4 linked regions of the Homo sapiens genome follow. The protein of the gene in region 1 interacts with the protein of each later gene in a pairwise test. Each region holds a gene or a part of one and is shown in the gene's direction. Other genes may lie near its edges. The genes, in order: GFM2, PTCHD1, FAM107A and TRIM9.

The links.
Region 2: the proteins of GFM2 (region 1) and PTCHD1 interact in a two-hybrid assay, tested with the Homo sapiens proteins (one study listed by BioGRID and IntAct).
Region 3: the proteins of GFM2 (region 1) and FAM107A interact in a two-hybrid assay, tested with the Homo sapiens proteins (one study listed by BioGRID).
Region 4: the proteins of GFM2 (region 1) and TRIM9 interact in binary tests that used the Homo sapiens proteins (3 or more experiments, as listed by UniProt).

The regions. Positions count from the first base shown.
Region 1 is NC_000005.10:74,742,508-74,750,797, reverse strand, and holds part of GFM2 (ribosome-releasing factor 2, mitochondrial), read left to right. Parts: intron 1-130; coding exon 131-219; intron 220-3,017; coding exon 3,018-3,106; intron 3,107-4,632; coding exon 4,633-4,693; intron 4,694-4,940; coding exon 4,941-5,120; intron 5,121-8,290.
Region 2 is NC_000023.11:23,386,284-23,394,573, forward strand, and holds part of PTCHD1 (patched domain-containing protein 1), read left to right. Parts: intron 1-6,247; coding exon 6,248-7,902; 3' UTR 7,903-8,290. UniProt on the Homo sapiens protein: Required for the development and function of the thalamic reticular nucleus (TRN), a part of the thalamus that is critical for thalamocortical transmission, generation of sleep rhythms, sensorimotor processing and attention. Can bind cholesterol in vitro.
Region 3 is NC_000003.12:58,562,425-58,567,489, reverse strand, and holds the end of FAM107A (actin-associated protein FAM107A), read left to right. Parts: intron 1-125; coding exon 126-282; intron 283-794; coding exon 795-902; 3' UTR 903-3,373; downstream 3,374-5,065. UniProt on the Homo sapiens protein: Stress-inducible actin-binding protein that plays a role in synaptic and cognitive functions by modulating actin filamentous (F-actin) dynamics. Mediates polymerization of globular actin to F-actin. Also binds to, stabilizes and bundles F-actin.
Region 4 is NC_000014.9:51,091,456-51,099,707, reverse strand, and holds the start of TRIM9 (E3 ubiquitin-protein ligase TRIM9), read left to right. Parts: upstream 1-4,602; 5' UTR 4,603-4,768; coding exon 4,769-5,590; intron 5,591-8,252. UniProt on the Homo sapiens protein: E3 ubiquitin-protein ligase which ubiquitinates itself in cooperation with an E2 enzyme UBE2D2/UBC4 and serves as a targeting signal for proteasomal degradation.

The DNA.
Region 1 (8,290 bases):
TTTCAATACCTTTATATATATACACATATATATACACACACACCCCTCCCCAGGAGTGAGATGTGAGATTGCTGGATCATATGATGGTTTTGTTAAAAAGAAGGCATTATACGTCTTATCTTTTTCTTAGGTCATGTGGACTTTACCTTGGAGGTTGAGCGGTGCCTAAGAGTGTTGGATGGTGCAGTGGCTGTATTTGATGCCTCTGCTGGTGTAGAGGTAAATAATATTGCCAAAGTAAAGGGAATTAGAACAGCATGATTTTTTAAAAAGTAGAATATGTCAAATTTAGTTAACTGTAACCATCTATTTGGTAAGTTCACATAAATCAAATAATGGTAAAAGGAAATCAGAATTTATATTGAGATGTAATCTACATGTAATCTCAGATATTTCATAGTAAAAGGAGAAATAGGAAAGCTGGTGTCAAGAACTTTGAGAGATCAGAGATTCTACCTTACTTTTGAGCTAACAAGTTAGCCTGCCATAGTTTAATGGATTCTGGCAGAAGACACTGTGGTGTGAGATTGATTATACACTGTTATTTCTGTTTCTTTCTGGGTCACTTTATTTCCTAATAGTTCCATTTTTCTGTTGTTGTAACTTTAGATAAATTTGACGTTTAATCATTCAAACAGATTGCATTACTTACAAGATTGAAATGTGCTTGAATAGGAAGTTGCTGAATTCATGAAGGAGAAGGCACTTGTTTTAAACAATGAATGAGCTTTTAGCTGGCAGGTGGAATGGTGGGAGTTTTTTGTTTTGATTTGCAATATGTTTTTGTTCTTTGAAAATTTATGATATTCACCCTCCACGCCTCACACACATACCTCATCATACACAAAAATTAATTTGGAGTGGATCACAGTGTTAAGTTATGTATACATAGCTTCTAGAAGAAAAATATCTTTACAGCCTTGGGGTAGGTAAAAATTTCTTAGAGGACATAAGAAGCATGAAACATAAATAACAAAAGTTGATTCCTGGAACTTTATCAAAACTACAGCTGTTCATTAAAACAAAAAAATTAAAAACACAAGGAATAGACTATGAGAAGATACTTGTAATGTTAGATAAACATATTATACAAATATTAAATTTCCTGAATGCAATAATAGTATTGGTTATATAAGAGAATATGATTGTTCTTGGGAAATAAATACTGAAGTATTTATAGTACGTATCTATAACCATGGATTTGTATCCAGACTATATGAAGAACCATAAATCAATAATAACCCAGAAGAAAATGGACAAAAAACTTGAATGGACACTTCACAAAAGAACACATGTGAATGAATAGTAAGCACATGAAAAGATGTATAATCTCATTAGTCCTCAGGAAAATGCAAATTAAAATCACAGATTCAATTTCACACCCAAAAGAATGCTTATAATTAAAAAGAGTGATAGCAAATGTTGGTGAGGATGTGGAGCAACTAGAAATCTTACACATTGTTGATAAGACTGCAAAATAGAGGCCAGGCATGGTGGCTCACACCTGTAATCCCAGCACTTTGGGAGGCTGAGGCAGGTGGGTTCGCTTGAGCCCAGGAATTAGAGACCAGCCTGAGCAACATGGCGAAACCCCATCTTTATAAAATACAAAAAAAATTAGCTGGGTGTGGTGGCGTGCACTTGTCATCCCAGCTACTCCAGAGGCTGAGATGGGAGAATTGCTTGAGCCCAGCAGGGAGGTTGGGGCTGCAGTGAGCCTTGATTGCACCACTGCATTCCAGCCTGGGCAACAGAGTGAGACCCTGTCTCAAAAAAAATTAAAAAGACTGCAAAATAATGCAACTACTTTGGAAGACTATTTGGAAGTTTCTTTATTTTATTTTATTTTATTTTATTTTTTATTTTTTTTATTTTTTTTTATTTTTTTATTTTATTTTATTTTATTTATTTTATTTTATTTTATTTTATTTTGAGACAGGAGTCTCACTCTGTCGCCCAGGCTGGAATGCAGTGGTGCAATCTTGGCTCACTGTAACCTCTGTCTCCCGGGTTCAAGCGATCCTTGTGCCTCAGCTTCCCGAGTATCTGGGACTACAGGCGTGCACCACCACGCCTGGCTAATTTTTGTATTTTTAGTAGAGACAGAGTTTCACCATGTTGGCCAGGCTGGTCTTGAACTTCTGACCTCAAGTGATCCACCTGCCTCAGCCTCCCACAGTGCTGGGATTACAGGCGTGAGCCACCGCACTGGTGGATAGGAAAGCCAACTGGTACGTATGTATAATTAAAAAGAACGGAAATACCTAACAATGTGGATGAATGTTAAAAACATGTTGAGCCAAAGAAGCCATGCTATTTTGTATGAGGTTCAAGAATAAGACACTGAAGCTATGGTGACAGAAATCAAGACAGGTTGCTTATAGGAGACAGGGATGAGAAAAATTTCAGGAGTAACAGAATGTTCTATGTTCTAAGTGGGGTAGTAGTTACACAAACGTACTTTTATCAAAACGCATTGAGCTATACACTTAATATCTGTACTTTATTGTATATAAATTTTACCTAAAAAATAAACTGGCTGCTTTATAGTACACTCCTATATTTCTTTTACCTCAAAATAAGTGTCTGAAATAATTAAGGCAAAATTCCTATTTCATAGATCAGAAACCTGACATTAAATGAGTTCAGTGTCATATGACATTTACTAGGAAAAGTGAAGCCAAACAAGAAGTAGGTCTCCTGATTCTCAGTTAAGTTCACTTTCCATGATTCTCAGTACCTCCTGAGGTGTTAATTCTCTTTGTGTGGCCACCTAGTTCACCCAGAGTATTCTCAAGTGGTTTGAAGCACACTCCCCTTCACACTTCATCACGTTCCCGGCTGTGTTAACTTGATAGCTAAAGAGTGACCCTAAAAATATAAGTGCAGTTGCACTAATTCTCTGCTAGAATAGGGCCCAATTTATCTGACAGTAGATTTTTGGATCTCTTCATTCCAGGTCTAGTAACATAGTTACTTTTGTTCAGTATGTATTTTTTTCCTCATCTTTGCTTTAGGCCCAGACTCTCACAGTATGGAGGCAAGCTGATAAACACAATATACCTCGAATCTGTTTTTTAAACAAGATGGACAAAACTGGAGCAAGGTATTTGAAATGTGTTTCATTGGCTTATCAGGGTGAAACTACAATTTGAGCTTTTAATGAACTATAACTTAAATTTAGGAATAGCTATTTTTTTTCCTATTGTATTATAGGGTATAAATATTCCATGGAATCCCAGTTTATTCCCATAAAAAAATTCAAAGCAGCTAATCCATAGGTTATATAACAATTTGGGAGTAATAGCTGATAGATGGTGAATCATCCTGTTTCTAGTATAGAGAGACTGAATCATATTTCTGAGATCAAAGTGGCTTCTTGATGATTCCATTGATTCTCTTTAGAACACAGGTATAGTCCCTATATTGCTGAAGGTATGGCGCTTCCCATCATCGCTAAAGATAGAGAATAGAGAACTGTTTCCTGCATTTGAAGGTGTTCTTCCATATTCTCTGATTTTCTTAGCTACTGGGTAAGATACTGTCAATAAAGAACTGGAAGAAGAGAATGTAGATGCTGTAAGACCTGCATGTAGGGGCAGAAGAGAGTTAATGCTGAGATGTATTGGTCATGGTCAGAGACTTACAGAGTGGTGGATGCATTGTCCTGGGAATATAATTCAGATAATCAAGAATATTTGAAAGATTTGGAGAAAATGTGAAAGGGAGAGAATCAAGAATATTAAAAATTCTAGAACAAATGTGATAGGGAGAGATTGTGGCCTGTGATGGGAGAATGGCAAAAATGAAACATAAACTATACCTCCCCTAAAACTACACAGTAATTAATATGCTTTGTGTTTATCTCCCTCTCTATAGTAATTCTGAGGCTGTTTGTTTAAAGAACCTTGTCTTGATTATTAATAGCCCAGCAACCTTTAAAATGTACTAGCCTCAAGTTCTGACCCTTTTCTGCTTGGAGTTCCTGTGGTAGATGGAAGTACTTATTTATTGTCAGGCAGTGCCATTGGCAATGGGGAGGGATATGACTGGAAAATAGGCTGGTTCTGAAAAACAATGGGACCGGAATGACCTGCATGTAAATCAGCTTGTGTGCCAAAGATGGCATGTGTTCTATAGGTAGCCAGCTGCAGTGTTAGCATAGAAATGAATAGCGTAGCATACGATGTGAAGAATGCCAAAGACTAGGCAGGCTCTTGGAAGAAAGCTAGTTGCCTTGTATGGTAGTAAACCTAGTTGTAGAAGAAAGAATCCTTGGCTTATCACAAATCTTGCATTGGAATCCCAACTGCACTTTATTATCCTTGTTACCTTGATCAATTCATTTAATGTTAATTGCAAAGTATAGTTATGCGAAGCTCACAATAATAATACCCTAAACAGCTCTGTGGCTGGATTAGGGTAATTACTGATATCTGAAATTGACATAAAAGTTTATTCCAGACATTTTCCTATGGAAAACTGTTAAATAGTGAGCGTTAAGGAGAATAAAGTGAGTTAAAATTTTAGAAAACATTCTTAAAACCTGAAAGAGTTTTTTTTCCTCTCTTGATACCTTTGGTAAAGAATTTTTAACCATGTTTTTAACTATAATTATTTTGCTTTCTACAGCTTTAAGTATGCAGTTGAAAGCATCAGAGAGAAGTTAAAGGCAAAGCCTTTGCTTTTACAGGTAAATTGGTTAATAGCATCAGCTTCTTCTCAGTTTCCTCATTAATTTATTTTGTGACAATATATACATTTCCAAAGCTATCTCATCATTTTTGAAGAAGTTGGGGTATAAATAGAAATAGCCACAGATTATAGTAATGGTGATAATAGACATTTTGGGGAAAATGGTACAATTAGAAAAGACTTGTCATCATTGTAGTTTTCAGTGAGTGATCATGTAATAATGTTAATCTCACTCTGACTTACAGTTACCAATTGGTGAAGCCAAAACTTTCAAAGGAGTGGTGGATGTAGTAATGAAAGAAAAACTTCTTTGGAATTGCAATTCAAATGATGGAAAAGACTTTGAGAGAAAGCCCCTCTTGGAAATGAATGATCCTGAATTGCTGAAGGAAACAACTGAAGCAAGGAATGCCTTAATTGAACAAGTAAAGTATAATGAATGATAAAATGAACACCAATGTGTGCACCACTTATCTTAAAATATAGTCATACTTTAGCATCTCTCGGGGATTGGTTGCAGGACCTCCTGTGGATACCAAAATCTGCAGATGCTCAAGTCCCTGATATAAAATGATGTAGTATTTGCATATAACCTATTGATGTCTTCCTCTATACTTTAAATCATTTCTAAATTACTTATAATACCTAATACAATGTAAATGCTATGTGCCATTTTTTGTTCATCTCTCTCTCCCACTAATCATCTACCTGTCCCCCAAATTATTATTTCAATATTTCTCTTTCATTTGCTTTTCGTTGAGATGGAGTCTTGCTCTGCGGCCTAGGCTGGAGTGCAGTGGCACAATCTCAGCTCACTGCAGCCTCTACCTCCCAGGTTCCAGTGATTCTCCTGCCTCAGCCTCCTGGGTAGCTGGGATTACAGGCACGCACCACCACTCCAAGCTAATTTTTTTATTTTTATTTTTTGGTAGAGATGGGGTTTCATCATGTTGGCCAGGCTGGTCTCGAACCCCTGACCTCAGGTGATCGCCCACCTCAGCGTCCCAAAGTGCTAGGATTACCAGCGTGAGCCACTGCGCCGGGCCTCATTTGCTTTTCTTTAGTTTACCATAAATCCTTAAAGAACTTAGGTTTACATGTTTTGAACTTTACATAAATGAAATGTTACTGTTTGTATTTTATGACATTGCTCAACATTGTTGGAACTTTATCCATGTTGCAAATATGTGTAGTTATAATCTATTCATTTCAATCTTGTATATTGTTATAATATATGATTTTACCACACTTTATTGGGTATTCTCCTGTGGATGGGCTTTGAGGTTGTTTCTCTTTTTTGCTGTTACAAACAATGTGGCTATGAACATTTTTGTATCTACTTGTGCACATGGGCAATAGTTTCTTTAGGATTAAACTAAGGAGTAGCATTGTTAGGTCAAAGGATATGCATGTCTTTTACTTTACTTTTCACCAGATGTCAAATTATTTAGAAAATTTTAAAACCATCAATTTTATAGTTGGTATATAGCTCTGGGCCTCATCCACCTTCAAAATTATAATCTTCAAAATAGCAAGATTGTTAATATTTGTAATTTTATATTATATTGTTAGTATATATGGCAATAAATAAAACATACCTTAATTTCTTGAATATTATGGTAGAGAAAAACGTTTGAATCAGAGCCCTTGATTTTTCACTTCTAAATTGAATTGGTCCAAATAAATTTATTCAGCATTCATTTTTTTTTCACTTATCTTTTGTACATAGTTTTTTTTTTTAAGTATAGTCATGTACTTCATGATGACATTTTAGTCAACAACAGACCACATGAATGTTGACAGTGCCATAAGATTATAATACTATATTTTTCCTGTACCTTTTCTATGTTGAGATACACAAATACTTACCATTGTGTTACAGTTGCCTACAGTATTCAGTACAGTAACATGCTGTATGGATTTGTAGCCTAGGAGTAATAGGCCATAGCCTTGGTGTAAAAGCAGGCTATGCCGTCTAGGTTTATGTAAGTACACTCTATGATGTTGGTAGAATGACGAAATCACCTAACACCACATTTCTCAGAACTTATCCCTGTCACTAACTGATTCCTGACTGTATGTAGTAATCATTGCAACTTTATCATTAACATAATAATTGTTATTTTTGTTATTGAGTTAATGAGGGCCTACTGTGTGCTAGGTTAAGTGCTTTACATATACTTTTTAATTAAACCCTCACAAGAACCTTATATTGTCCCTATTTTACAGATGGGGAAACAGCAGCTCAAATGCTTAAATAAGTTGTCACACAGCTAATAAAGTGGCTGAGCTAGAATCTGAACCCAGGTTAATCTGTTTAGAGCTAAAGCTCTTACCCGCTTTGTTATACTGCTTTTTTAATTTGGGGAGCATAGAAGATATAAAAGTGGAATTGACGTTTATTAATAATTCATTCCTCTTTGAGTTTGTTTGTGTTGTTTTAATACAGAAGAGCTATAAGAATAAACTTAAGAAGGATCTTGTAATCTAGTTGAGGAGCCAACACACACTTGCCCATGTCTCATGGTCTTCTAGGATGTGATAGTATGTGACAGAAATCTCAGAAAGAATCTGAGACTGTCAGTAGCTAATAATATGCTAATTATAAGAAATACATAAGTATGTATAAAATTTACAGAATAAGACTACTTCACACCCATTAGGGTGCCTACTGTCAAATACAGAAAATAGGTGTTGGCAAAGGTGTGGAGAATTATAACTTTGCGCACTGTTGGTAGGAATGTAAATGTTGCGGCCACTATGGAAAACAATATGGCGATTCCTCAAAAAATTAAATATGGAGTTACTATATTACCCAACAGTTCCACTTTTTGGGTATATACTCAAAAGAATTGAAAAGAGTCTCAAAGAGATATTTGCACACACATGTTCTTAGCAGCATTCTTCACAATAGCCAAAAGGTAGAAGCAACCCAAATCCATGGATCCAGAGTAATCAGATTCAGAGACAGAAAGTAGAATGGCAGTTGCCATGGGCTGGGGAAGGGCAGAGAGAATAGAGTGTTGTTTAATTAATGTATATGGAGTTTGTTTTGCAAGTTGAAAAGAGTTCTGGAGATTTATTGTGCAATAATGTGAAAGTACTTAACACTACTGAACTGTGCAAGAGTACAGTGGGCTGGGTGTGGTGGCTCATGCCTGTAATCCCAGCACTTTGGGAGGCTGAGGTGGGCAGATCACGAGGTCAGGAGTTTGAGACCAGCGTGACCAACATGGTGAAACCCTGTCTCTACTAAAAATACAAAAAAATTAGCTGGGCGTGGTGGCACGCGCCTGTAATCCTAGCTACTCAGGAGGCTGAAGCAGGAGAATCGCTTGAACCCAGGAAGCAGAGGTTGCAGTGAGCTGAGATCGCACCATTGCACTCCAGCCTAGGTGACAGAGCCAGACTCCGTATCAAAAAAAAAAAAGAGTACAATGGTAAACTTTATGTTGTGTATATTTTGCGATAATTTAAAATTTTCCTTTAAATTAGTGGATAAGATTAGTGTGGAATAGAATCAACTTCCAATATTGAAGGTGCACAGTAATAATAGCTAATACTTATTATACACTAGTATATATTCTTAAAGCAT
Region 2 (8,290 bases), on another chromosome or scaffold:
CAGCTATCTAGTGAAGAAAAATCATTCCTAAGACTAAAACCCAATGCTCTGGTTAGAATTTTCAAAATGTGACAAGTCTCTAGTACAAAGAATAAGATGTGTGTGTTCCCCCTGATGTGAGCATCTGTCTTTACTTAAACAGAGTACACCTTTATTCTTACTCTTAACTCTGAGACAAAACAGGCTGCAATAAACCAAACAATTCAGCTTGTAAAGTAAATGTTTATAACTGGCAAAGTGTAAATGTAACCCAATTAATAAACTTCTCCCTGAAAATAGATGTTACTCAACCCAGACATATATACACTTTAAATTTCTTCTCAAAAACACAAAAATCATGAATTTATGTGGATGACATTGAAAAACAGGCATCTTATAAACATGAGCTACTTAGTGAAGCTTTTCTAAGAATAAAATAGGCTTTAAGCAGATTTTGCTTATGGATTATAGTCTCTGAATTTTTGAGACGAATGTAGTAATTTTATTTCCATATATGAAATTTGGCACTGCCCAGGCATGCTATAAACAGCTTCATTGACTCATGATATTAAATGTTTTCACACTGAAACTGAAAGATCATCCATCAATCAGCAAGCCATCCCATTTCCTCCTTCTTAGCCATTCCTTACTTTGAGGAACTCAGGATGAGGAAATCCTGCTAGTGTGGAGAGGTTTAAAATGTGAGTAGCACCCAGCGGCATCTCTCAGCTGCTGTGTTGTGGCTATGTATACTGGGACAGGCGCGAAAATCTGGGACTGAAGAAAAATCTGACTTACAAAATCCAGAAGTATTATACAAAGTAGATCAATTTGCCTACGATTATTCATTGAAAACCAAACAACAACAAAAAAATCACCCAGACTGTCTCCAATAGCAAAACCACTAAATACATTTAAAATATTATTCACTTTATGAGCAACTTTCCAGAAGTATATCTACTGGGTAAAGAAAGGTTAACTCTCAACTATTTGTTAGTAGATTCTGTCTTACCGGATTATAAACAACCCTGAAGGCTTTGGTCAGGCCCCAGAAAGTTCTGGGTGACAGAATTAATCTCTGAGGGTGCTTGATAGTCACCCTCAGTGATGGGAGGATTAGCCAGTTGAATTTTTTTTTCCGCCATTAGTGTTATTTATCATGTGTGCTTCTTTTTCCCTTCATTTGCTCCAAAGTCTGAGAGTTAACAACACATTCAGATATAAAAATTCTTTTGAGAATAAGAAAAATTATTAGCCTAAATTCTTTAGTATTTTATTTTATTAGATGACAACCCCAAAGTGTACTGCAAATAAAATTAATAAAAGCAGTTTTCTTTTTAAAATCACACTCCCGGCCCAAATTTTGCCTCAACATTAGTGAAGAGCCCTGCTGGCCTGACAAAAACCTCGAGCTGCCTCAGAGTATTCACTCACGAATAATTAGAACTTGGCGCTCCCTTCAATCTCTCTCTCTCTCTTTCTCTTTATGTGTGTGTGTATGTGTTTTTACATACTGATATGCATTTGTTCTTATGCATGTAACAATACAGACATGCAGGGTAACAAAAATAGAAACAAACATCTTGAATATGCTTTTAAAGGACAAGAGAATGCTTTAGAAGCATTTTTATCTTCAAAATCTGATAGAATCAGTATGTGTTTAACAGTTCCCGTTGGCAACTCCTCAGTCCTGCACTGTGACTGTAAAAGAAGGAATCCCCTGGGATGTTGTATCATCCAGGGTAATCCTTGGAATGTGAGGATGTCAGGATGTGGAGGTTCCTGATATCCTCACTGTGATATATAGTCTTTTTACCCCAAGGTCTCAGGCTGCGACCTGGCCCTCAAATGATGAGTCATGACTCCCAATAACACCACAGGGTCCCTACTGACCAAAATCAAAATCTGTATTTAGGTAGCTCTGCCCTGGCCCCACCCCATGAGTTCTGTCACCAGGGAGTCCTTGTGAACAGACTTGGGACTTTGGAGATGGGAAATTGTTATTTGCCAAAGTCATGCTTTGTGCCAATGACATAGGCCCACTGGTCAGATTTAACAGAGAAGCTTATAGAACTCCTACTTTGTAGAGAAGTTTTTAAAACTAGAGTGCAAAGCAAACAGCAGTACTTTTGCTTTTAAAACACCTTTTTAAAAAGTAGGAAACAACAGTCAGACCTCTGAAAAGTATCTTCAGTCCACATGCAATATCTGTTTGCCTACGTCTGTAAGATTTGGCGTCAGAGTTCCGCTTGCTGAACTACAGCCCCAAAATTAGGAGAGTGGGTTGTGCGTGGTGGCTCATGCCTGTATAGAATCCCAGCACTTTGGGAGGCCGAGGCAGGCAGATCACCTGAGGTCAAGAGTTCAAGACCAGCCTGGCCAATACGGTGAAACCCCATCTCTACTAAAACTACAAAAATTACCTGGGCGTGGTGGCATGTGCCTGTAATCCCAGCTACCCAGGAGGCTGAGGCAGGGGAATCGCTGGAACCCGGGAGGCCGAGGCTGCAGCGAGCAGAGATTGTGCCACTGCACTCCAGCCTGGGAGACAGAGTGAGACTCCGTCTCGAAAAAAAAAAAAAGCAATGAATGATGATGATGCTAAAGGAGGTAGCCATCCACTGAAAGAGGAAAGTGGAGAGGAACAGAACCTACCAAAATCTATCTTCTCTGCCTCTCCTTGACTCCAGGTGGCCCAGTTTCTGGAGTGCTAGTAAAAGATAAGGTCAGACCTGACTGAAGGAAAAACTGAAGAAATTCGTCTCTGTGAAATTCTCCTACCTGCCATTTCCTCTTTATTCCATTCCCATGTCCATTCTCTGTCCCATTCCCCAGACCTAAGGGAAGCTGCTTCAGTAGACCACTGTCCCAGAGGAGTTTACATTTAAAAGGATACCCTTGAAAGTTCCAAGGGGAACTCGGATATAATTCCGGCATTCTGGAGGGCAGGATGGTCCTCGTGTCCTAGGGCTTTTGGAATGTGTCTCCCCTTGAATCCAGGCCAGAACACAAGAGTCCTCACCGATGGCCTTTCCTATAGGATAACAGGCCGACCTCTTCAGCAAAAATACCCAGCTATGAGCCAGGACAGCTGCCAGCCAGGCACTCCAGGCTGTTAATCCTTAAGAGGTGACCACAGCTATGTTAGCACTTGTCCCTCCCTTGACTGACAAACCTTCAGGAAGGAGGCCCAGTTATGGTATCAGCAATTGTCCCAGAAATCCAAAGGGCTCTTGTAAGATGCTGTAGAACTCCAGTTTGGGGATTCGGGTGTAGCAATCTGCTCGAGAGGTGTGGCTTGAGAAAGGAATCTGACCTATCAGGAATGGTGGTCGGGGCCTTTGGAGGCAAAGTCAGGCACAACTAGCAACAAATGCTGAGTGATCGGTTAGAACAAATTCTTTCTCAGGGCCTCTTCTGATTTCTGTGAGTGGCTGCATGTACACACCTGTAGCAAGAAGGAAGAACTAAGGAAAGGCATCGTTTCCAAAAGCCCCTCAGAAGAAAATTAGAATTCTCTTTGGAGCTGCCCCCAAACCAAGAACATATGCAAAAAGAGCCAGGACTCAAAATAAAAGATCAAACTATAGAAGGACAAGGCATTTAAAATGCAGCAACAGAACTCAAGAGAGAAGCTAACAGCCTACTTCCACCTTTCCTTGATTTTGATTACTTTCATTCTTGACCCTGGAGCCTCAGTCTTGTCACCTAATATCTCTGTTAATTCAAATTCCTTTTCTCAATTAGCTTCTAAGATTATTCAACAGCAAGGTATGAAATTGATTCTTATTGTATTTTCCAAAAATCAGGGTCAGATAATGTCATTATAAAACATCACACTGATTTTTAAAAGAACTGCAAAACAGATTTAAGTTCTATTATATGACTAATTCTAATTCCGCTATATGCTTTATTTTCTTGCCATATTTAATAACTCAGTACTAAAACCCTGTTTAAATTTTTTGTTTCTGGCAAGTAAATATCATTAAAAAATTATTTGCCATTTATAGTGATCCCCTGAAGTGTGCTTTGCCCACCAAAGCTTACTTGCTCTACATGGCCCCAGGAAAAAAAAAAAAAAAACAAAAAAAACAATATTATTTCTTCAGGGACAGTGCCTCAGAAGTATTCTCTTTTTACCCTCATTGTCAAGAGAATGGTTACTTAATTAAAGGTCAGTGGGTCCATCTTGAAAATATACTAGAAACAGATTTAATCATGTTCCCTCTCCAGACTAGATGTTAATACCTAAGCATAATTAACAACAGGATGCCAGTCAATGAGTGTACTTTTTACTTCATATCTGGGGAGTTTAGGTGCCTTCAATTTAATAGGGGCCTCGGTGCTAGTTAACAAATTGACAGTCTTGACCTGACTTCTAAAAGTGGCTGTAAAACGATGCCTAGTCAATTAAGATAAATGCCAAATTCCTCTGAGGAAACAGGCCTAAATCATTACTTTGAAATGGGCATTTCAGGTATGAGGCCAGGACTTCACAATAAGGATATAAATACTAGCTTGGGCATGAGGGAAGATGTACACCTAGCTATTGTACACACAAGATAACAGTGACTCACTTTATTCAGCATTATGCTTGGCTGGAGATTTTAAATTCCTTTTTAAATACAAGACTATTGTACCACAGGGTAAAGATTTTATTATCCTCAATAATGGGATTGAATATGCCAAGGCGATGGAAGCAGGAAATTAGATCTGCTGATCCCCATTGCCAAGACAGGAGTTATCGAAATCCACAACGGGTCACTTTGGTGAGCCTTCCAATGTTGCAGTGGCCTGGAAACACAGGGACTCGAAGTAGGGAAATGTCTGGCTCCAACTACGAGAGGTGGTAGAAGTCATGCTAGATCAGGTTCCAGGCAGCAGAATGGAGTTTAGAACATGAGCATTTACTGTACCTCTGCTATTTCAGTATTGCTGAAATACTAAACCAGGAGGCGAAGGCACTAAGCAGTTACGCAGCGGGGTTACTGATCTGGCTCTTTCCCACAGATGCCACTATCAAATAGCGCGGAGAAGCTAGCAGAGTCGCTGCTGACGTATTATATCACTGCTTGATAAGTCATGTATGAATAACCAAATTGGTCAAACAGATCCCTGAAGACAAATTGCAAGTCATAAACCTTCAACCTGAATCCTAATTTTTATCAATAACCAGGAGAGTTCATATTTATCTTATTTTTTCTGTATTTTCTTCACTGAAACTTCTTCACTCCTACTTATTTTGCTTCCCTCTTTCTAAGATTTATTGCTTCCTGCCCTGATATTTGGGGAGGGAAAACAGAGGGGGCTGTGATTTAGTTTCCTGTCAAGACTCAAATGAAATACACTGCCTCTTTATCACTAAAACCCTCTAGTTGGCAAATTTTAAATGAGGTGACAGGACATTAACTCAGAACCCTCTGCCCACTATCTTCCTCTGCACTGACCCCTAGCCAGACTTGTGGGGACGGAAAGCAAAATGATGAGTGTCCAGACATCTTCTCTTCTCTGGAGCGTTCCACCAACCAAACTGCACCAATAACTCTAAGCTATTAATGGGAAAAATCCCCAAGAGACATATGCACAAGTCTAATCAGCTTTTATTCTTTTTAGAGTCAGGGTCTTGCCCTGTTGCCCAGGCTGGAGTGCAGTGGCACAATCATGGCTCACTGCAGCCTCCAACTCCGAGGCTCAAGAGATCCACCTGCCTTAGCCTCCCAAGTAGCTGGGACTACAGATATGAGCCACTATTCCTGGCTAAGTTGTTTCATTTTCTTTCTTTTTTTTTCTTTCTTTTTTCTTTCTTTCTTTCTTTTTTTTTTTTTTTTTGAGAGATGAGGTCTCGCTACATTGCCCAGGCTGGTATCAAACTCCTGGTCTTAAGTCATCTTCCTTCCTCAGTCTCCCAAGTTGCTAGGATTACAGGCATGAGCCACCATGACTGGCTCTACTCAGCTTTCTATAGGCAAAAGTTCATCTAAGTGCTGTTTGTTTGGTGGAACACTCCAAAGAAGAGAACTTTCTTAAGCCAGAGGGAATATGAAGATCTTTGCTTCTCTAGCTGCCCTTTCGTTATCCATTAACATTTACGATTCATAAAAACATGGGTCTATCTCCGCATAGGAGAAATCATTGGCATTTACATACCCGTCACCACTAGGGTTGATTACGTTTCCTTTGACCCAGTAGTCCCTCATAATCAAGTTGATTTCCCTCTTAAGAGATTAGTTCTTTAAACTTCTGCTCTGGTCTTTTTCTGCCCTCTTAGGTCATGGATTATATGGGACTTTTGAAATGTTATCCTCCTGGAGGAAAACTAGAGAAGACCAACATGTTAAAGAGAGAACTGCAGCAGTCTATGCAGACTCCATGCTCTCCTTTTCTCTCACCACTGCCATGTACCTGGTCACCTTTGGCATAGGGGCCAGCCCTTTCACGAACATTGAGGCAGCCAGGATTTTCTGCTGCAATTCCTGTATTGCAATCTTCTTCAACTACCTCTATGTACTCTCGTTTTATGGTTCCAGCCTAGTGTTCACTGGCTACATAGAAAACAATTACCAGCATAGTATCTTCTGTAGAAAAGTCCCAAAGCCTGAGGCATTGCAGGAGAAGCCGGCATGGTACAGGTTTCTCCTGACGGCCAGATTCAGTGAGGACACAGCTGAAGGCGAGGAAGCGAACACTTACGAGAGTCACCTATTGGTATGTTTCCTCAAACGCTATTACTGTGACTGGATAACCAACACCTATGTCAAGCCTTTTGTAGTTCTCTTTTACCTTATTTATATTTCCTTTGCCTTAATGGGCTATCTGCAGGTCAGTGAAGGGTCAGACCTTAGTAACATTGTAGCAACCGCGACACAAACCATTGAGTACACTACTGCCCAGCAAAAGTACTTCAGCAACTACAGTCCTGTGATTGGGTTTTACATATATGAGTCTATAGAATACTGGAACACTAGTGTCCAAGAAGATGTTCTAGAATACACCAAGGGGTTTGTGCGGATATCCTGGTTTGAGAGCTATTTAAATTACCTTCGGAAACTCAATGTATCCACTGGCTTGCCTAAGAAAAATTTCACAGACATGTTGAGGAATTCCTTTCTGAAAGCCCCTCAATTTTCACATTTTCAAGAGGACATCATCTTCTCTAAAAAATACAATGATGAGGTCGATGTAGTGGCCTCCAGAATGTTTTTGGTGGCCAAGACCATGGAAACAAACAGAGAAGAACTCTATGATCTCTTGGAAACCCTGAGGAGACTTTCTGTCACCTCCAAGGTGAAGTTCATCGTCTTCAATCCGTCCTTTGTATACATGGATCGATATGCCTCCTCTCTGGGAGCCCCCCTGCACAACTCCTGCATCAGTGCTTTGTTCCTGCTCTTCTTCTCGGCATTCCTGGTGGCAGATTCACTGATTAACGTCTGGATCACTCTCACAGTTGTGTCCGTGGAGTTTGGAGTGATAGGTTTCATGACATTATGGAAAGTAGAACTGGACTGCATTTCTGTGCTATGCTTAATTTATGGAATTAATTACACAATTGACAATTGTGCTCCAATGTTATCCACATTTGTTCTGGGCAAGGATTTCACAAGAACTAAATGGGTAAAAAATGCCCTGGAAGTGCATGGGGTAGCTATTTTACAGAGTTACCTCTGCTATATTGTTGGTCTGATTCCTCTTGCAGCTGTGCCTTCAAATCTGACCTGTACACTGTTCAGGTGCTTGTTTTTAATAGCATTTGTCACCTTCTTTCACTGCTTTGCCATTTTACCTGTGATACTGACTTTCCTGCCACCCTCTAAGAAAAAAAGGAAAGAGAAGAAAAATCCTGAGAACCGGGAGGAAATTGAGTGTGTAGAAATGGTAGATATCGATAGTACCCGTGTGGTTGACCAAATTACAACAGTGTGATAATGTCTGCTTGGCATATTTTCACCTTAGGTCTTATCAAGACCAAAGAGATTATGTTAATGAAACAATTAAATTCAAAGTTCTTCCCTTTTTTAAAGATAGGAAACAGGCATTGCCAAAAAAAAAAAAAAAAAAAAAAGGAAAGGACAGTGGGGAGAAATGGGCCTGGCATATTTTCAGTCTTTAAAACAAAGGAGTTGTTATGAGAATTCACACACACATAGACACACACACACACACACACACACACACACACACACACACACCCTGGGAGACCTATAGTCTCTTAAACTAAGATCAAGTAGAAGAAAGCTTATTAACAAGCAGGATCCTGCCTTATCCAAACTGCAGATGTTGCTGGCATTGTGACAAAACCCACTGATTGAAA
Region 3 (5,065 bases), on another chromosome or scaffold:
CCAAGGCTACAGGGAGGATTGCACAAGATAATAATGGGGGTTGGTGTCACCGCAGGAAGCAGCCCTGAGGCTGGGGGAAGCGGGAAGGTGATGGTCTCCTGACAGCTCCCCACTTCCCACCCCAGGGGCCTTGGTGTGGACAGCAAGCCAGAGCTGCAGCGTGTCCTAGAGCACCGCCGGCGGAACCAGCTCATCAAGAAGAAGAAGGAGGAGCTGGAAGCCAAGCGGCTGCAGTGCCCCTTTGAGCAGGAGCTGCTGAGACGGCAGCAGAGGCTGAACCAGGTGGGTGATGGGCACCCAGCAGGGACCACGCATCCTCCAGGGCTGTCCTCCAGGGAGGAGCTCTGCTGTGGCCACAGCTAGTAAGAGGGAAGAGGATCAGCAGACAGAGCACTGGACTAAGAGTCCACTCCTGGCCTGAGTCCTCCCTCTGCCATTCACTTTGCTAGGTCCTTAGGGCGAGTGGCTTCCCTGAACCTCAGCTTCCTCACTGGCCCAGTGTACTGCATGCTGATTCTGATTTCATTCTTATAACTGTCTTGTGAGCCAGGTGGCATTCCCATTTTAGAGATGGGGAAGCTGAGGCCCAGAGGGGGTGAGTGATTTGAACCAGGCTGCACAAGGAGAACTCAGTCTCATGCTCTGTGCCCCAGCTACCAGGCTGATAGCAAAACTCATCCCCAGGTTGGTTCTGTTTCCCCACTGAGTGGGCCCTTGGTCCAAACTCCACAGGTTTTCAGAGTAGGAATCCCCCTAGCTCCACCCACTTCACTCTCTGCTTCTCCCTCCTTCAGCTGGAAAAACCACCAGAGAAGGAAGAGGATCACGCCCCCGAGTTTATTAAAGTCAGGGAAAACCTGCGGAGAATTGCCACACTGACCAGCGAAGAGAGAGAGCTGTAGGGCCAGCTGCCGGGCTCAGGCCACTGCCCACCCTGGCCTGGACAGCCTCCTTCAGCCCTTCTGTACCTGGCAGCCCTGGGCCCCAGGCCCTGGGACGTCTGTGATGTTCCCACCTGCTTCTGTAGAAATGTGTCACCCCAGAGGGCCTGGCTCTCCCTGGGAGGCTGGGGCCCCTAAGCTCCTAGGTTTTCCTTCCAAGCACCCAGCCCTCCTGCTCCAAGAGGGATAACCTGCACCCCTCCCTGCAAGGGGTTCAGAGCCCAGCACAGGAGCTTTCTCTGGCAGAATTGAGGAGGAAGAGGTGGCCCTCTGACTTGACAAGCCTTCTGTTCTGCCCAGGCCTTCCCACCAGGAATCTCCGAGGCTCCCCAGGGCCCCGCTTCTCCGTACACCCCAGCTCCTAGGTCTCAGAGAACTCCCCCACCTGTGGTTTTACCTGCAGCCAGCAGAGCTTAGCTTCAAGGACACCTGCCTTCAAAGCCACTGAGGGGAGGAAGGGCAGGGCAGACTGCAGATGGCCTTGTTGCTGGCATCCCGGCCAGGTGGGCGGGGACTAACAAAGACAGCTGTTTAGGGTCTTCTCCCCTCACCCATGCTTTCATCATCCCCTCCGCACAGCCTCCCCGTCCAGGCCTTCTAACCACACCTACCCAGGGCTGCCGCATTCCTGCACTCAGAAGTCTGCAGCGGTGCCTCACAAACTTGATTGTGCATAAAAATCACTGGGGATCTTGTTAATACAGCTTCTAACTCAATAGATCTGGGAGATCCTGCATTTCTAACAAGCTCCCAGGTAAGGCGGAGGCTGCTGGTGTGAGGACCATGCTGTGAGCAGCAGGGCGAGAGTGCCCAGGGCTGATATATATTGGAAATATCACCCCTGAAGCCATCGCTGGCCCCCACCTCCTGTGGACTGATGCCCCAGGGATTCCCACCCCACTTCTGCAACCCCAGGTATCCTTCATTATCCACCCCATCCCAGACTCCCACCCCAGGGATTGCCCGTGAAGACTTTGGCCTAGCAAATTGTGTTGGTTATGTGAGTGTTGTTTTAATCAGAGATGTACATGATTGCCAATCTGCATTTCTTACCAGTGTGACCACACTGTTACGATGCAATTCTAGCCAAAAAAAAAAAAAAAAAAAAAAAAATTTTTTTTTTTTACTTTTTCCTAGTCTTATGGAAAGCAAATATACAATGATTTTCAGTAGGCTTCTGGAATAGAAACAGTGGTTTGAAGACCCCACTGCCACCTTTATGGACTGGCCCCTTTGAGTCTGAATCCCCGGCCTCTGTCACCTGAGACCCAACCCCTAGCTGGGCCAACTCCAGTGAATTCACCCATTTTTCTTCTTCAGAAGGCCTTTCCTGTGTGAGACCCACATATTTTAACCTTTTGCTCCTATCCCATTTTTAAAGAATTAGAGAATAAACCAGGCCTGTTTCTTTTCCCCTGAAATCCCTGCCTCTGGCTTCCTAAACCCATCATCTAAGGTGACAGAGCAGTGCTGGAATAGCATCTCCTTTCACTTTCCCAAAACTGCCACAGATAGCTGCCACTGGCATGCTCTTTGATTCCTGGAAGCAAACGTGGGACTGTCGGAGGAAAGGGATTGTTCTGGTCTTACTCATAACTGGGTGGTTTGAGGGTGACTGAAGTCGTGCTTTTCCTGTGTGTGCTGCCAGCACAGGGCTGTAAATGCAGATATTGCGCCTGTGTGCGTGTGTATAAGTCAAGCTCCAAGAGGCTCCTGAATGTGACTGGCGTGCTGAGAATGTGTTTACGCTGTTTAATGTCTGCCAGGTGAGGGTTACACTGAAGATGCACAATCCCTAAAATAAAGATCACCACTTCCCCAAAGAAGCAGCCCTCGGGTCCATGTGTTGTTCAGACATGTGAAGAGAAGCAAGACAGAGGGTCTCAGATGGACGAGGGCTCTCCAAGGGAATGCCTGGGGATTCACCCAGTGGTCCCCAGAGGTGCTCCATGGAGGCAACAAGTCATTCCATGAAGCCCCAGAGGTAGAAGGGACCTCAAGCACCACGCCCTCCAGGGCAGCCGTGCAGACGACCTTGGTTCACTTTTCAGGGGTCGTCCCAACTCTGTATCTCCAGCCACTCCAACTGTGGAGGCTGTAAATCCAGATTTTCACTGTTCCAGTCTCCTTTGCAGCTTAGGATGGCTATGTGATCAGGTGTGGCCAATGAAATTGAAGAGGAAGTCTACCTGGGCTTCTGGGAAAGCTTTTCCAATAAAAGACACAGGCATGGCTAACACCTCCCTGGGCCTCTTCTTCCTACCTTGATTGAGGGTGTGATGCCTGGAGCCACAGCAGCCACTTTGCTACCATGACAAAAAGGCCAAGAGAATCACAGAGTCATTGACCCTATCATTATTTCACCAAGCCAATACCAGCCGCCATCCTTCTCCAGAATTCTTGTAAATAAAATAAATCCCTCTTTGTTTAAACCATTGTTGGTCAGTCTCTGTTACTTGCAACCAAAATCATCCCTAACTGACACAGAAGGCCAGTCCCTGCCTGTCCAAAATTACCTGCAGGCTGTGCTAAAAATCCAGATTCAACTTTCCCATCAGAAGCCTATTGGATCAGGATCCCCAGCTGCAATGCCTGGGATCTGTTTTTCTGCACCTTCCCCATATAGCCTACCTAGCATGAGTCTGAAAACTGGTACTTGGACATGACTAAAGCACACATCATTCAACAAATATTTATCGAGTTCCTGCTCCATGCCAGGATGCATGCCATAGGCTGGGACACAGTAGAGAACAAAGGTGCAGTGCCTCCCCCTCATCTGATGACTGCAGTGGTCTCCTCCCAACTGGTCTCCCCTACTGGCCTTGTCCCTACACCCTGTTCTCAACAGAGGAGCCAAAATGATCTTCCTCCAGTCTAAGGCAGAACTTGCGACTCTGCACAGAGCCCTCCCTGGGCTCCCAGTGGAGTCTCTCCTGCATTCCAGGTGGTCCTGCGAGTCCAGCTCCCTCTTAGCCTCCGACCTCCTTCCTGCACTCTCCCACTTGCTCACACAGTCCCAGTTGTGCTGGCCTCCTACCCTCTCCAGGCATGCCCCATCTCCATGCCTTTCCACCTGCTCTTCCCCAGCCAGGAGTATCCTTCCCTCCAAGAGCCTCGCGGCCCACTCCCTTGCTTTCTTCAGGTCTTTTATCACACTTCTTCTAAATGAGGTCCCCTTTAGCCACCCCATCTAAAATCTCAACTTCTGCAGTCTTCCTCTGCCTGCCTTGCCTTCTTTTTCCCCCTTACTGTTTATCACCATTGAACATATTCTATATTTTACTGATTTGTCTCGTGTGTCCCTCCTAATGATAATGTCAGCTCCATGAGGGCAAAGATTCTTGTCTATCTTGTTTACTCTGAATCCCTAGTGCACAAGGCCTAGAGAAGATGCTCAGGAAGTGTTTGTCGAATGAAAGAATGAGAAACCCCTTCTCCCTCTGCAATACACCTAGCCTTCTCCCAGGTCCAGCCCATAGCAACCAGAGAAGGCCCTACCTGCCTCCTTCCTCCACGGTTTCCACCCTGACCCACAGATATCCATTTGCTGGGAAGCCCTCATCTGCCCACTTGGGCATTCATCAATATACCTGGGCCTCACTGGCATCATGCTGGCAGGACCCGCATCAGAGCCGCATGGCTCCTGCACACCACAGGAGTGTCTAGAGAGTCAGATCATCCCTGAAGGCTGATGATGAGGCCATCACTCAAGCCTGGAGACCATGGAGAAGCAAAAGGCTGCTGCAGCAGCTCTGACTTCAGACCTCTCCCTAAACAGGGAGCCAAGACAGCAACCCCCGTTCTTGCGGGGGCCACACTCTCTCGGGTCCTGGTTTGGGTTTGCAGAATGCCCCTGTCAATGGCAAACCAGCACTAAACACAAAACCTGGGAGAGAGGGCTGACCTTAGGATGTGAAGGGACCCTCCAACCCTGGTCCTGCAGCGTGTGTGTCACAAGAGTCCTCACACCACAGGAGATTTGGCAGGGCAGCCTCACCACACTTGAGATTATACTGACTCCAAACCCTGTGAGGGTGGGACCCTGTCTGATTCTGCTCACCTTTATCCAGGGCCCTGAAAATAGTTAGGCACCCCGGAAAGTTGTGAATGGATGTCAGTAATGA
Region 4 (8,252 bases), on another chromosome or scaffold:
CCTTTAAGAAGTGTTTAGGTCACAGGGGCACCACCTTCATGGATGGATTAATGCCATTACCATGGGAATAGGTTTCTTATCGCGGGAGTGGGTTTCTTATAAAAGGAGAAGTTCAGCTCCCTCTTGCCCTCTATCTTGCCCTCTCTCTGCCCTTCCACCATGGGATGATGCAACAAGAAGGCCCTCACCAGATGCCAGTGTCTTGATTTGGGCCTTCCCAGCCTCCAGAACCATGAGCCAATATATTTCTGTTTCTTATAAATTATCCAGTCTGTGGTATTCTGTTATAGCAGCAAAAACGGACTATGACAGGGTGACTTCTTTCAGTTTTAGTAGGCTGTAGAATTTGTTTCACATTATTTTCACCTGCAAGGTTGTAGAAAGCAGTCCAATGCCAATCTGATTCTTTTTTCTTTACAATTAAGTTGTTCTTTCTTTCTGGGAGCTTGTAAAATGATCTTTTTTTTTTCTTCTGAGTTAAGAATTGTGTCTGTATATAACTGGGTCTTTTTTCATTAATGTCATCTATAATTCTAAAATCCTTTCAATCTGTAATTTTATATATTTTTTTGGTTCAGAGAAATGTTTTCCAACTATGGTTTTCCCTCCACCTGTGTTATTTCCTCATTCTGAGATTCCTATTATTCACAAGTTAGGTCTTCTGGATTTATCCTCTAGCTCTCTTACCTCCATATAGGATTCATTAAATCTTCATTTTCTCCGATTCTCCAGTCTACCCTTCCCAAAGCATCAGTAATATATTACTTACAATAAGAAATACTACAGAATTTGAATATGGCCATCTTCCAGTAGTACTAAATGGGAAAAAGCTCATAATTCACTATAATAATCAAATAATTTAAATTACCAAAGGATATCAACAATAAATGTTATTAAAGAATAGTACAAAATTATAAGTATAAAATTGAATATTAGTAGACTAAATGGGGTAAATTATTCCATAAAAGAAGTTTCTTCAGAATTTCTATTGAGAATAGAAACATCACATTTATCACTTTTCAAGTGATGTACTTTTACAAACCACATGCAGCAAGACCCTTATTCAAATACCTTAATAAAATATTTTTATATACATGTCAGATAATCTTAAAATGTTAGAGCCTAAGATCAGCTCCTTTCACTGATTTCCACCCCCCTCCCACAACTAAGGATAGACTACTCTAGGAGAGAATGTGGAAAGAAAAACCTTTCTTCTCTGTGTTCATTCTTTAGACTCACAGAGACTGTTTTGTTAATAATCAAGCATTGTAGTCAAAAGCAAATAGGAAAGCAACTCAATTTTTCATTGAAAAACATTTATCAAAAAAAGAAAAACATTTATCTTTTTTTAAAAATGCAAAAGCTGTTGTTGCACTTTAAATGTAATTGCTCTCATTGCTAAAGAACATAATTTGGGTGAATAGTAAGTTTCAAAGGATAATTAGGCACTTTACACAAAAGAGAACATCTGCAATCATCCCAGGAATGATGAAATTACAGGGCTATCAATCCTTGTGCTTCAGGGCATGGACTGATCACCAGCTGGAAGACAGAAGATATCCCCTCAATAGTATAATATTTCTATAATATTACCAATTACATTTCAATTTTTATTCCCTTTTAAACATAAGTCATTGGGGGGCTATAAAGCACATTATGGCCAAACAGTGCAACATGAGGGGAAAATCTTCAAAGGCCTTCAAGAATATTTTAAAGAAATGGATTCAAAGAAAAATAGTAAACTTTTGGCTGGGAGCGCTGGCTCATGCGTGTAATCCCAGCACTTCGGGAGGCTGAGGCAGGTGGATCACTTGAGGTCAGGAGTTTGAGACCAGTCTGGCCAACATAGTGAAACCCTGTCTCTACTAAAAAAAAAAAATGTAAAAATTAGCCAGGCATGGTGGTGCACACCTGTAGTCCCAACTACTCAGGAGGCTGAGGCACGAGAAACACTTAAACCTGGGAGGTGGAGGTTGCAGTGGGCCAAGATTGTGCCACTGCACTCCAGCCTGGGGAACACAGCAAGACTCCAGTCTCAAAAAAAAAAAAGGAAAAAAAAAGTAAACTTTCAGAGAAGGTGAGCAGAATATCATAGAAGTTAACAAAGAACATTTTGGGTACTTATCACATTCAGAGCTTGAAGAGAGTAGAACTCAGCACTTGTTGAATGAATGAATGAATGAATGAATGAACAAAGGAACAAACTTATATGTGTCCGGGTTCCAATCCCAGCCTCACCATATTTGACCTTGAGTACTTAAGTGTCTTTGCTTATCTTCAGTTTATTTATCTGTAAAATGGGAATAATTGTGCCTACCTCTTCTTGTAATTACAGGGATTTAACCAAGTAATGTATACAAATAAATAAATCCCCTGTTTGGAACAGGGTGAACTCTCAACAAATGAGTCATTTTAAGAGCTCTCCTAGGATTGACTGATTTAGCTAATTCCTAAACAAACAGATCTAACAATGAAATCATCTCAAGCGACTTCATAATAGACCAAATCTTTCTATATTGACTATATTATAAACCTGTGTTGTTCTTTTTGCGAACCCAACACTGCATTACACCATGAGACATCCTCTAAAATTCTTCTTTACTTTGAACTAAGCATAAACTTTCTGCTAATAAGATCTCTTAGATGATATACTATTATAAGCAGAGTTCAAACTCATACAAAGTGTAACAGCTGCTCACCTTGCTGGTCCAAGATATTGTGACTTGTGGTCAAATGCATACAAAAGCCATAAAAGGACACTCCTTTCTAATATTTTCTCAATAATTAACTTTCATTACAATTCAATTAATACTATATTGAATATAATTATTAGTAATTTCTCTTGGGACCTATAAATTAAGTGTATCCTGCAAGTGCAGCTAATGTCCCAACCATACCTGAAGAAATTTTATCTATGTCTGTAAACAGAGTGCATATACCTTTGGATGCTCTGGTCTCAACTAGTTGAAAGCCAGCTTAAAAATAAATCACGTCACATTTATGATTAACATGGCTTTAAATAACAATGGGGACTTTATTCCCCCACACAATGATCAACTACTGTTCTCACTGCAACTAAAGATGTTGAAAAGATAACCTAGTTTATTGGACAATTTCTACAAGGGCAGTGTAATAAAATGTCCATTTTTTTTCTGGACAATAAAGTACTTTTAAATTATCAACATAGCTGCATATAATCAAGTTATCTCCTGTCTGGAAGGTGGAAAATTGGAATATTTCTAGAACTTGCAAAGAGTTTTTGTCCTTTACTTCATGAATCATTCAGCAAAAGCCGGCTATGTACTATTTCAAATGTTACTACCTCAGAATGTCACTTGACTCAAAGATTTTCCTTTCCTTTTCTTCTTCCTCCCTCCCTTTCTTCCCTTCCTTCCGCCTTTCCTTTCCCCCCCCCTTCCTTCCTCCCTCTCTCCCTCTTTCCCTTCTTCCCTCCCTCCCTCCCTCCTTGTACAGGGACTAACACTAGAATCACCGCCTCACCATGCCCCTCGTTGGAAGAAACAGAAAGGCACACGATGCTGTAAGCTATGGCAGATGCCCAGGGCACGTGGGGTTGAATAATGCTGTTTGGAGTGAAACACTGAGACTCCGCAGTCACACAGTGATTCATTTACAGAGCTTTACTAAACTACGGGCACTCAGAAATAGACAAACTGTTCTTGCCTCAACCGAACCAAAGGCCCAGCGGGCCTCGAAAAAGCTCAGCCAGGTGCTTTGGGAGGCCGCGAGGAGGAAGAAGGATCCGTGGAAGGAAGCACGTTCACACCACGGCACTGAGGCCTCTGGGCCGAGCTATAATTTAAAGCATGAAACGAAGGGGTCATAGATTCTGACTAATGCTGACCATTTCCATCGGTTACCCAGTTGAATCTCATGTCGACACTAGGAAATCGACTTTATACATGCTCTTTAGGAAACGAGGGACGCAGGATGAAAGAAGCCAAGAGTGTCGCCAGGGCTTGCGCCAGCGCCGTCAGACTCCCGGGATGGGGGAGCTCCAGGGCACGGCGTCAGCGGATTCACGGAGAAGGAGAAAAGCCCCACTGCCGTGCAGAAGCCTAGGCCCGGGTGAGACGCCTGCGAAGGCTGCCAGCAGCGGAAGAGAAGGGGCGTCCTCCGTGCTGCGCAGCACTCGCCCGCGGTAGGTGGGCGCGGAGCTCAGAGCTGGGAGCCAAACGCAAACGCTGGCGAGAAGCCCCAGCCCCCTCCGGCAGCCCACTCGCTGCGGGGAGGGGTTTCTCACGCCCCCAGCTCCTGGGAGACTGCACCGGAGGTCGGAAGTAAGCCGGGCGAGGATGAATCATCCCGCCTAACTCCTCCTTCCCGGTCCCCTAGCCTCCGCACGCCGGCCCCCTTCAGAGATCTTGCAGCCGCGAGCGAAGACTGCCCTATCCTCAGACTCTACCGAACCCCCTGTGGCCTGCGGAGACGAGGAGACGGACGGGTCTGGTGGCCAATGAGAGCTTCGATCTCTTGCCCCCCGCCCAATGGGCCGCTGCTCATGGGCCGGGGCGGGACTAGGAGGGCAGGTAGGGGCGGTCCGGGCTGGCGCGCGGCGCGGCGGCTACGCGGCTGCGGCTCACAGAGCTAGCGCCTCTCTGGGTGTCCGTGCCAGTGCTGCGCGGGAAGGCACCACCACCACAGCCGCCGCCGCTGGCCAGGGTGCTGGACAAGACGGGCCCGTCGGCCACCTCGCCAGCTCAGGCACCCGCTGCAGCCGTCGCTGTCTCCTCCCAGACCGGTCCCCATGGAGGAGATGGAAGAGGAGTTGAAATGCCCCGTGTGCGGCTCCTTCTATCGGGAGCCCATCATCCTGCCCTGCTCTCACAATTTGTGTCAGGCGTGCGCCCGCAACATCCTGGTGCAGACCCCAGAGTCTGAATCCCCCCAGAGCCATCGGGCCGCGGGCTCCGGGGTCTCCGACTATGACTATCTGGACCTGGACAAGATGAGCCTATACAGCGAGGCGGACAGCGGCTATGGCTCCTACGGGGGGTTCGCCAGCGCCCCCACTACCCCGTGCCAGAAGTCCCCCAACGGCGTCCGCGTGTTTCCCCCGGCTATGCCGCCACCGGCCACCCACTTGTCACCGGCCCTGGCCCCGGTGCCCCGCAACTCCTGTATCACCTGCCCCCAGTGTCACCGCAGCCTCATCCTGGATGACCGGGGGCTCCGCGGCTTCCCCAAGAATCGCGTACTGGAAGGGGTAATTGACCGCTACCAGCAGAGCAAAGCCGCGGCCCTCAAGTGCCAGCTCTGCGAGAAGGCGCCCAAGGAAGCCACCGTCATGTGCGAACAGTGCGATGTCTTCTACTGCGATCCGTGCCGCCTGCGCTGCCACCCGCCCCGGGGGCCCCTAGCCAAGCACCGCCTGGTGCCCCCGGCCCAGGGTCGTGTGAGCCGGAGGCTGAGCCCACGCAAGGTCTCCACCTGCACAGACCACGAGCTGGAGAACCACAGCATGTACTGCGTGCAATGCAAGATGCCCGTGTGCTACCAGTGCTTGGAGGAGGGCAAACACTCCAGCCACGAAGTCAAGGCTCTGGGGGCCATGTGGAAACTACATAAGGTGAGTCCTAAGAAAACCCACTCCTAACTCCCTGCGTCTCCGATCATCCGGTTTTGCAGCAGACGGTCCCCGTCTCTTGCGCACAGCGCATCCCAGTGGGGGCGCAATGCAGGTGCCTTCGATGTTTACCTCCCTGGTCTGGTGCATTGCAGGAGGCATGGGGGAATCTTAACCGGCGCACGGGGGAGTTGAATGCCCCCACAGAGTTGTTGCGGGGATGCCTTAGAGCGGGTCTCTCGGGGCGCGCTGCCTGCGAGCGGGACTCAGGGCGCCCCCTTTCCGCGGCGGGTCTGCAGCCAGTGGCCGCGGCCAGTGTGTGGGAAAGCACTGCATAGCTGGGTAGAGCCGCGCCAGTGCCCAGGGCCGCTAGGCACGCTCGAGGGCAGGGCGGGCTGCGAACCCTCGGGGAGGGACTGGGATGGGGGCGGTGGGGTCGCGCGGACGGCGGGAGTCTGTCGCTGCTGGATAGGCGGACCTGGTGAGGCACGGCGGAGGGTCGGGGAGACGCCGCAGGCGGAATACTGATGAGCCCGGCTCTGGGCCAGACCTGGCTCTCGAGCTGGAGAGAACGCGGGGTCCTGGTGCCACGTGCTCAAAAGACAGAGCGGAGAGGGCAGCCAGCGGTCGCCATGGCAACGCGACGTGCAGGCTTGGGCCTGAACCCTTCCGGAGTTGGGACCTGAGACTAGAGTGTCAGGACCGGAGTTTGCGCAGTCGCGGCCTGGAAGCCAGACAGGTGCATCTCCTAGGGAAACCTTCTCCTCCCAACTATACACACACCCACTTCTCCGGAATTCAAGCCCTTTCCTCTTTCAGTAGTTATATGTGCAAACTTTGGGACACCTGTTACCAGATTTATCTTTCCAGTCTCTTTTGATGATATTTCCACCATGGCTAGACACGAAGAGGCTTTAGCAACATATTCTGTCGTGCCACTCCTCTGCTCAAAACCCTCCAATTTTTCCCACGCTTCTCAGCCTGTCCTACATGACCTCTTCCATTTTGGCCCCTTCGACCTCATTGCCTCCCACTTACTCCCTCTGCTCCAGCCACACTGCTTCTTACTGTTCCTCAAACGACGCCAGGCACCTCCCTACTCCAGGGCCTTTGCATTTGGTGTTCATTCAGCCTGAAGCTCTCTTCCCCAGTTACCTGAGATCCGAATGGGTCACTTACCTGCATCCTTCAGCTCTTTGCTCAGGTATCATCTTTGCAGCGCCACCCACCCAGACACCCGCTAGTTCCCTCTCAGCTTTATTTTCCTCAGTAGTATTTATCCCTGTGTGGCATGCTATATATTTTAATTATGTTATTTTTTGTATTTATCTATTGCTCCCTGTACACACACAGACATAAACGAAATAAGCCTCATGAGGAAGAAGATCCTTATAATATGCCCACACTGCTTAGAAGGAAGGGAGCAACTCTTGAGGAGATGTGCATGAATTTGCTTTTCATTTTTTAAATGATCCATTTAGTTGGGGCTGTGGAGTGCAGGGCAGGGATTCAGGATGGTTGGAAGGAGCTTTTCTTTACATCACTGAGTTGCATACCCAAGGATGAGATGGAGCAGTGAAGATAGTGTCCAGGCCTCAGCTGTGGCCTTGCTCAGAGTCTCCCAGAATTCCTTGGAGACTAGAAAGGGTAGCTTTTGCAAGTGGCCAACTGTGGAGTTAAGGCTGGAACATTGATATTTTGTTTACAGCAAGAAAAAAATGTCATTAATTTTCAGCAATCAGTGAAAGTTTTCTCAACTCCTTAACCCGGTTGAATGTGATCCATGTTTACAGTCATTCTATTCTCACATATAACCTATTAAATCATATTAGTACTGATGGGGATTTCATTTAGCACAAATTGAAGCCTAACTGGGCACACACCACTGTTTTCAGAACAGTCGAATTTAAATTTTTGAAAATGACATTTAATTTTGAAAGTTTTCAAAACTTGAGTTCACAGCTAGTTTTTTATTCATATTTTGATTTCACTTTTAAACTGCTAATTATAGTCCATGTTGAATTGCCCTACAAAGTATCCTTGGAACTAAAAAATTAATCACTCTGTCAGGAAAAAGAATTTAGAGCCACAAGGTAATTAGGATGGGTAAACCACAACATTATTATTTTTTTTATGACAAGCCTATCCTTGATCTATTAAGACCAAAAGAAACCTTTAAATCTCTGTCAAGCCCCATGTCAATTTGAAATGTTAAATCATTTGTTTTATTGGCAATAGAAATTATGAGTAGACAGACACTGGTGCTGCCTGGGTTGAGATTTAGATATCTACCTGCCACAAAAGAATGTTAAAACCCTTGAAACATGACATAAGTAGGCTAGAAGACCATTTATTCTCTGATCTTTTGCACATTTTTTCCAAAACAGTAAGGACACATAATTTTTGTTCAGTCAATATGAGGATTACTAAACTGCCAAGAAAAAAAATAAGACAGAAGGATGACAGATTTTAACATTCACTTGTCATCTGTTAGATGAACAACAAACATTACTCCCCCACCTTATTTACTTAATAAGGAAGTTAATGTGTTAGCAGCCAGTTTTCTCATATAGTTTATGTTTTAGTTAATGGTACTTCTATCTCCACAAAAGCCCATGGGCCAGAATTTCTATGCCCTGCAAAAATAGGACAGCAAAGAACTATA